Linked DNA regions of Homo sapiens. The protein of the gene in region 1 interacts with the protein of each later gene in a pairwise test. Each region holds a gene or a part of one and is shown in the gene's direction. Other genes may lie near its edges.

The links. The genes of interacting proteins can lie anywhere in the genome.
Region 2: the proteins of SGTB (region 1) and CDH15 interact in binary tests that used the Homo sapiens proteins (3 or more experiments, as listed by UniProt).

What each region holds. Positions count from the first base shown.
Region 1 is NC_000005.10:65,720,392-65,724,137, reverse strand, and holds the start of SGTB (small glutamine-rich tetratricopeptide repeat-containing protein beta), read left to right. Parts: upstream 1-2,028; 5' UTR 2,029-2,221; intron 2,222-3,308; 5' UTR 3,309-3,330; coding exon 3,331-3,430; intron 3,431-3,746. Other genes in the region: NLN (neurolysin, mitochondrial), read right to left, coding at 1,724-1,764. UniProt on the Homo sapiens protein: Co-chaperone that binds directly to HSC70 and HSP70 and regulates their ATPase activity.
Region 2 is NC_000016.10:89,169,646-89,173,391, forward strand, and holds the start of CDH15 (cadherin-15 preproprotein), read left to right. Parts: upstream 1-2,102; 5' UTR 2,103-2,186; coding exon 2,187-2,228; intron 2,229-3,746. UniProt on the Homo sapiens protein: Cadherins are calcium-dependent cell adhesion proteins. They preferentially interact with themselves in a homophilic manner in connecting cells; cadherins may thus contribute to the sorting of heterogeneous cell types.

The sequences.
Region 1 (3,746 bases):
TTTTGTTATATCTTACCACAATTTTAAAAAAAAGGGAAAAAACCCCACAATGTTAATCTTCTCACTGATTGGGGGGCGGGGGGGTTGGTTTGGAAAATAGTTATTTTTCATTAAAATCACTATTTATGCACCTAGCCTATTTATTAGTTTTGTAAATTAACAACTACTTTAATTTTTTTCCAGCTTTAATGTCTAATATGGTAAATATAGACAGATATACCACACAAACAGAAGCTCTTAGGTCCACGGTAATTTTTGAAAGGTAAAGGGGTCCTGAGAATAAAAAGTTTGAGAATTGTTCTTTTTTTTTTTTTTTTTTTTTTGAGACGGAGTCTTGCTCTGTCGCCCAGGCTAGAGTACAGTGGTGCGATCTCGGCTCACTGCAAGCTTCGCCTCCCGGGTTCATGCCATTCTCCTGCCTCAGCCTCCCGAGTAGCTGGGACTACAGGCGCCCGCCACCACGCCCGGCTAATTTTTTGTATTTTTTAGTAGAGACGGGGTTTCACCGTGTTAGCCAGGATGGTCTCGATCTCCTGACCTCGTGATCCACCCGCCTCGGCCTCCCAAAGTGCTGGGATTACAGGCATGAGCCACAGCGCCCGGCCGAGAATTGCTCTTATATGAAGATTTATTCCCTCCTCTCACCCCTGCATTATGTGAAGTCTTCATTTCTTGGTATAACTTCATTTGACAGCTATATCGATTGCAGCCTGGAGACTAGCAAAAAACGACAGGCTGAAATATGGTCACCAATCACCACATTAACTCTTTGTAATTAACCACTGTCGCCTGCCTGCTCCCTAACTCTACGGACTGAGCAACACAAAGCTCCATCCACACAGACGAGTGGCAATGTGCAAAAGGGAACTGTAGAAAGCTTAAATGCTGACATGTTACAAAGTAGTTTTGTTGATAGCTAGCAAGAAGCACACATTTTCTTTATTCTGTTGAATCTTCATTTGGATTTACAGTTCTGGGCAGATTTGGAAACGGGGATGGTGGCGGCATTGTTTCCGAAAACCAGCGCATCCGTGCAAAGAATTTAATTCCCTCACCATCTTGCTACTGGTCTGTTGCAGTGGGGTGTGGTTAGAGGGCTAGGAAGCAATCCAAAACAGCAGCTCAGGCTGCCCAAAGCCGTGTCCAAGCGATCATTTTCTCCATTTTGGGCCAAGTCAATTTGCACCGGCAAGAGGCAGAATGTTTGTTTTATGGGGAGGAGGAAAATAAAAAAGGAAGTCAGAGAGCATGGACGGAAACAAGCAACACCACCAAAGAGGTTTCATCTCGGGTGGATGTTAAACGATTGGAATGCTAATAATGGGCGCGAGGAGCAAACACAATTGTTCTGAGTCCACAGCTGCGGCACTTTTAATGACAGGTCTGTAGTTCTGCATTGGGATTGAACGTGAAATGATTTTCTTATCCAAACTATTTGCATTCATTTTGGGCCGCGTCTGTGACCAGCCTCGCTGACTGCGGCTGAGGCAGTCCCAAACAAAGAGGAATGGACGTCCTCCCGAGGGAGCGGAGGCGGGAAAGGTGGCCCCAGGTGGCCGCGCCAGGTGTCCCCCAGGGGTCCACCTTGCAAGCCGCGGGGAGGGTGCGTCCCGGGAGCGTCGGAGAGGCGCGGTCGGGAAGGGGTGGGTCCGGGCTCCAGGCACCACACGGCGAAAGACCCCGCCCTGCCCACGGCCAAGGTTAACCCGCGCGCTGGAGGTACCTGCGGAGGCTTCGCACAGCCAAAAGGCACCGGGCGATCATGGGAGCGCTGAGAGGCTGGCGGCGGCGGGCGCGTGGTCCTTCGGCGTGGGGCGGCGAGGCGGGCGGCAGCGCCTGGGCGCCCGGGAGTCTCGAGCCGGCCTAGCCGCAGAGGCCACAGTGGCTGCCTGGCCAGCGCCCTCCCACGTGCGGCAGCTCCACGCCGGCGCCTACCAGCCCCGCCCCGCGCCGTGCCCCGCCCCAGCTCGCGTGTCTGGCCCCGCCCCAGCCCTCGCGTCCGGCCCCGCCCCAGGGGCGGTGCTGGCCAGACCCTGCCGCCTGAGAGAGAGCACAGCCTGGTGGGTTCTGGGGTCTACGGCCTAGGGGCCGGGGAAGTTTGCGCCGCCGCGACCAGTGCTGCGATCCCGAGCCGGGCTCCAGCCCCGAGGACCAGGGGTCGGGCGGGCCTGCCTACGGAACCCCGCGGGCCAGCAGCAGTCGTCTCGCGTCCTCCTGCTTGGTAAGGGGCTTCTGTCTGGCAAGGGTGCGCCTCCCGCCGCTCCGGACCGGGGCCCGCACCGGCACCCGCTGCACACCGGGCAGGGCCGAGGCGAGGCCGGGTACCTGAGGGAGGACGGAAGGGAGGGGGAGCTCGATGCGCTCTGGGGAGAGGAAGGGGGAGAAGCCTATTTCCCTCTTCTCACCCCTTTTCCCCCCATTCTGTTTTTACCTTCTGCCCTGGGGCCTTATTTAGTGCTTATGACCCCGTGGCCTAGAGGCTGACATCGCCTTTAAAATAACTACACAAATAATAAACATTATAGCGGCGGGTACCACACCCTGGCTTTGAATTAGGGAACCTGGGGAGCAGATGGATGATGCGATTTGGTGGAAATCAGCCATGAATGCCGCCTGGCCCTGCGCCACTGTTTGGATGCGATAGTATTCCATGTGAATGAACATGACCGGGAGCTTCCAGCTTGTCCACGAGAGCACAGCCTCTGCAGGGAGCGCCGGTCGGCTTGTAGTATCCATCGACTTGGGCAGCGATTTCCTGACATGTCTGCTGATTAAATAGAAATGCCATTTTTATTAAGAACGACACTCACCACTTGAATAACCTTTCGCGAATGTGTTTCCTCATCAAATAACTCTCAACCTACAAAAGTGGGTAGAGTGTACATTATTAATACTTTTTTTAGATCCCATGAAAAAGAGGAAGATGCTTGGTATACATCAGCTTTTAGTCAGCAGTATGAAATGCCTCTTAACTTAGTACTGAGGCCTTTAGGGGATTTCTGTATGGTGAGATATGCAGTGACAGTCTAAGCTTATGCTGTACATGTTTTGAAGACATTTTTACTTATTCCAAGATTTAACATACTCGTATACCACTGGGTATTAATGAAAATATGTAATAAATTACCTTCACAATACTTTGTGCTCTCCTGACTCTTTACAAAGAGAAAAGATGAAAGGTCATACAGTTTTGTGTTTTGTTTTTACCTTTAATACACTTTATAACCCATATCATCTTTGTAATTTATGACTTTCCTGACTGATTCTTTAAAATAACTTAGTTCAGTGTTTTCATTTTTCTTATCAAGGAAAAGTGTTTAAGCTTCTAAAATGTCATCTATCAAGCACCTGGTTTATGCAGTTATTCGTTTCTTACGGGAACAAAGTCAGATGGACACTTACACCTCGGATGAACAAGAAAGTTTGGAAGGTATGCATCTGCTCTTTGTGTTCATTTATATTATAATTATAAACGAAGACTAAAATAGCTGTAAGCCCAACTTGATGATCTATTGTAACATAATCAGAATTTTTTTTGATCTTTCAAGAGGAGAGGCCTGACTATAAGGTTATCGTATTTCCATTTTCTGAAGCTTGTTTTGTTTGTTTTAACAACAAATTAAGAGGACTATTGTTCATTTATTGAACAAATACTATATGTCAGAAGTATGCTGTTCATATTATAGGCAATTTTTTCTTCACAGCAACTGTTATGTTAGTATTATCCCCATTTAACAAGTGAGAAA
Region 2 (3,746 bases), on another chromosome or scaffold:
AGGGTCCGGCGTCTCCAGGTCCACCAGGAAAGGGAAGGGCTCTTCTAGGGCTGATGGTCCTGCAGCCGAAAATGTACCCCTGCCCCCACTGCACAGGACCTCCAGACTCAGGGTACCCAGCCCTTCCCTGCCACCTACCTCTGACACAAGGAGAAACTGAGGCACGGGGGAGAACCTCCAGCCCAAGGCTCCGAGCTGGGACTGGACCCAGGCTCCTGCCTCCTGACCTTCCTGCTGCCCTGGGAGCATGTGGAGCGGGGTCCCTCGCGGGGGCACCTGCCCCTGGGGGATAGCCCGCCAGCCAGGGAGCACACCCTCCCGCAGTGGTTAAGCCGGCTGCTTCCCTGGCCCCGCCCTGCATTTGGGGCTCACCCAGGACCTGGCCCAGCTTAGCCTTTCCCTTAGAGACCCCCACATCCCATGGAGGAGGGATTTGGCCTCCGTTTCTCCCCGAGGTGGGTGGGAGGCAGGTGGCTGAAGCGAGGTGGGTGCAGGGTGGAAGCGGAGAGGAGCTGGGGTTGGCAGACCGCAGCCTCCCCAGACCTCTTTCTGGGGGGAGGGCGAGCACTTCTACCTCACCCCTGCACTAGTCCCGTGAGGATGAAAACCAAAAGCACTCAGAGGGCTTCTCCACCCCTATTTTGAGGTCACTGACCACAGAGGCAGGATGGTGGTCCCCAACAGGCTACACCCCAGCCCCAGAGGCCTCCCAGTCTGGAGATGGACTCCCTGCCCTCTCTCATCTTGGAGCAGTGAGCGCTAGGGACAGTCCTGGCCTGAGCCTCCCGGGCAGCCTGGCCTCCTTTCAAGCAGGCCAAGTGCACAGATGCTGCCTGCACCTGCACAGCCACCCGCCGTCGACAGGAGAGCAGAGGTACCGGGTCTGCTCCCATCACAGAGAGGAACGGGCTCCCCGGCCCGGCCCTGGGCTGGTCGGCAACCCCCACTCCCCACCCTGCCTGCTCAAAAGAAAGGATCCTCCTGCCTCCAGCCCCCTCCACCCCCTCTCCAGGACCTTCCTGACCGTGCGCTGGGCCTGTGCAGGTGTTGAGCCACACCCACACCATCCCAGGGGGCGGGGTCTCGAAGGGGAGAACAGGTGCCACAGTCAACAGGAGGGAGGGCTTCTGGCCGAGGTGGCAAGGAGGCTCCAGGAGGCGGCAGCGTTGACCTTGGGTGTTGAGGGATGATGAGAAGGAGTTCTGTAGGAAGGAAGGTGCTCCAGGCAGGGGGCCTCGGGGAACAAGGGGATGCTGGAGGAGGTGCGTGGACTGGGGGAATTGGGGGTGTCCTACGAGCCACGCTGGTATCAGAGGCGTGTGAACCAGAGCAGTTCCATACTGAATAAGAGCTGGGCAAAATGAGGTCGCGAGGAGGTGCGTGGAAGGCGGGCCTAGCGTTCAGTGGGATGCGGGGAGGCGCAGGAGACGCAGCCAGAGAGGCGAGGGGCCCAAGGAAGTGCTCAAGAGGTGTCCCCCGGCAGGGACTACAATGCAGATTCCCTGGAGCAGGGGCGAGCCGGGCCCAAGGAGCAGGAAATGAAGAAGCCAGGAATCCCAGCTGGTCCCTGACCCGGACGCACCCACCCTGCCTTCCCCACAGCCTGGCCTCTGGCTCTGCTCCCAACGCAGCAAGCCGGGGTATCTCCGACCTAGCCCTGGCCCTGCCCGCCGGAACCCCGCAAAAGCTATCACTCAGCCCTCGGCCCCGCCCCGGCCCCACCCCGGCCCCACCCCGCACTCTCACAAGGTGTCACTCAGCCCTCGGCCCCGCCCCGCCCGCCCCATCCTCCTCTGGCTCCGCCCCACCAGCCTCGTGCGGTCACCGCCCCGCCGGCGCACCTGCGCTGTCACTCAGCCCTCGGCCCCGGCCCCGCCCCGCCTGCCCCACTCGCACACGGGCTATCACTCAGCCTGCGCCCCGCCCTAGCTCGCCAGAGGCTCCGCCCCACCCGCCTGCCAACACGCTGTCACTCAGCCTTAGCCCTGCCCAGGCCGGCCCTCGGCCCGTCAGAGGCCTCCTTCGTGCTGTCACTCAGCCCTTGCCCCGCCCCCTCCCCGCCCCCCTCACACGTGCTGTCTCTGTCTCTGGCCCTGGCCCGCCCCGCGCACTTGCGCTGTCACTCAGCCTGGACGCGCTTCTTCGGGTCGCGGGTGCACTCCGGCCCGGCTCCCGCCTCGGCCCCGATGGACGCCGCGTTCCTCCTCGTCCTCGGGCTGTTGGCCCAGGTAAGGCATCGGCACCTGCGGGGGTCCCCGCTGCCTCCCTCGACGCTGCGGGACAGTGTCTTCAACTGCAGCCGCACAGGTCTCCCCCAGAACCACTGGCCCTGGTCGCCTTTGGGGGCCTGTGAGCGGAGTGGCTCCGGGTGGGTCCCTGGGCTGGGGGCAGCACCCCAGGGGTTGTGGGGAGTGAGTGTAACCAAACACTCCATCTGGTGGAATCACCCCCAGGACTGCAGAGTGCTGCTGGGGTCAGGGACCCCAGGCAGGGGCCACCCAGGTAGCCGTGCCCTCTCTTTGGAGGAACCGCTGCCGGGGTCTGGGGGTTGCCAGTCTTGAGTGGAGCAGAGAGAGGGGGGAGCGGCAGGAGTGCCCCTCTCTGGGGGGCTGGGGGCCAGGTTTCTATAGGGACTCCCTGCGGTGGGCACAGGACCCCTGGCTAGTCTTGGGTTTTGTCCAAACCCCCCACCCCAAGTTCCTGGCCAGCAGGGGTGGCTGCAGGCCCTGCCCCCAGGAACTCACCCTCACGGCTACTTCTCGATTGGGAGGGCCCAGCCCGAGCCAGGTCGCAACACACGGCCTTGCAGAGTGGCGTGTGGCAGCCCTGGGGGCTCTGTTCCTGGGCTTCACCTGGGACCCTGCCGCAGCTGCCTGGGGTGATCAGGCCTGGGGGCCCAGCCCCCAGAGGCTGCTGGACTCTGCCCCTAAAAATCTTGTCTGGACTGCTGGCACCGTGGTCTCTCCAACGTGGGAGCAAGCCAGAGTGGAAGGAAGCCCAGGCCTCAGCCCCCCACACCCGACATGGGTACTGCCTAGCTGGAGCCACGTCTCCTCACACCCTAGGGGGACCTAGACATGGAGGATGTGGCCTCAGTGGCTTCAGCCCCCAGGGACTGGGCTGGGCTGGGGCATGGCCGGCTGTGGTTGGGACGTCACTGGGTACAAGAGGGCAGCCTCTCTCTGGCCAATTCGAGAGAGAATGCACATAAAGGGCTTAGCGGTGCTCACAGTATTCATTGCTCTTGTGGTCCTGGGGTGGTCAGGGAGTGCTGGACACAGTGAGTAAGGGAAGCCACTCCTTTCCCAGCCCCCACTGAAGGGGCTTCCTGAGTCCCCTCATTCCCACAGGCCTCCCAGCTCCAGCTGGCTCCAATTTCAGCCCCTGGCAGCTGACCAGGCGCCTGGCCAGCCAGACCCTCCAGCAGCTGCCCCTGAGGGCACCACGGCTCCTGCCACCCCCGACTCCCCCATCTGGAGACAGTGGTGGGGGGAGACAGTGGCTCAGCATGCGTGCTCACCCCCCGGCCCTCCACCCCTCAGCCCTCTGCCGGGGAGCGCAGGCTGGGGGGCTCCATGCCTCCAGGGCCCTTCCCCACCTGCTCTGGGGACAGGGTTTCTTCCCTGGCACCCCAACCCAGGGCATGGTGGTGGGGAGGCTGGCGCCTGTGAAAACATTCCTCCAGACCTCTTCCTTTGGATTTGGGAGTGTCTGCCTTTCAAAAGGCCCCAGGGGGCTCTGTGGCA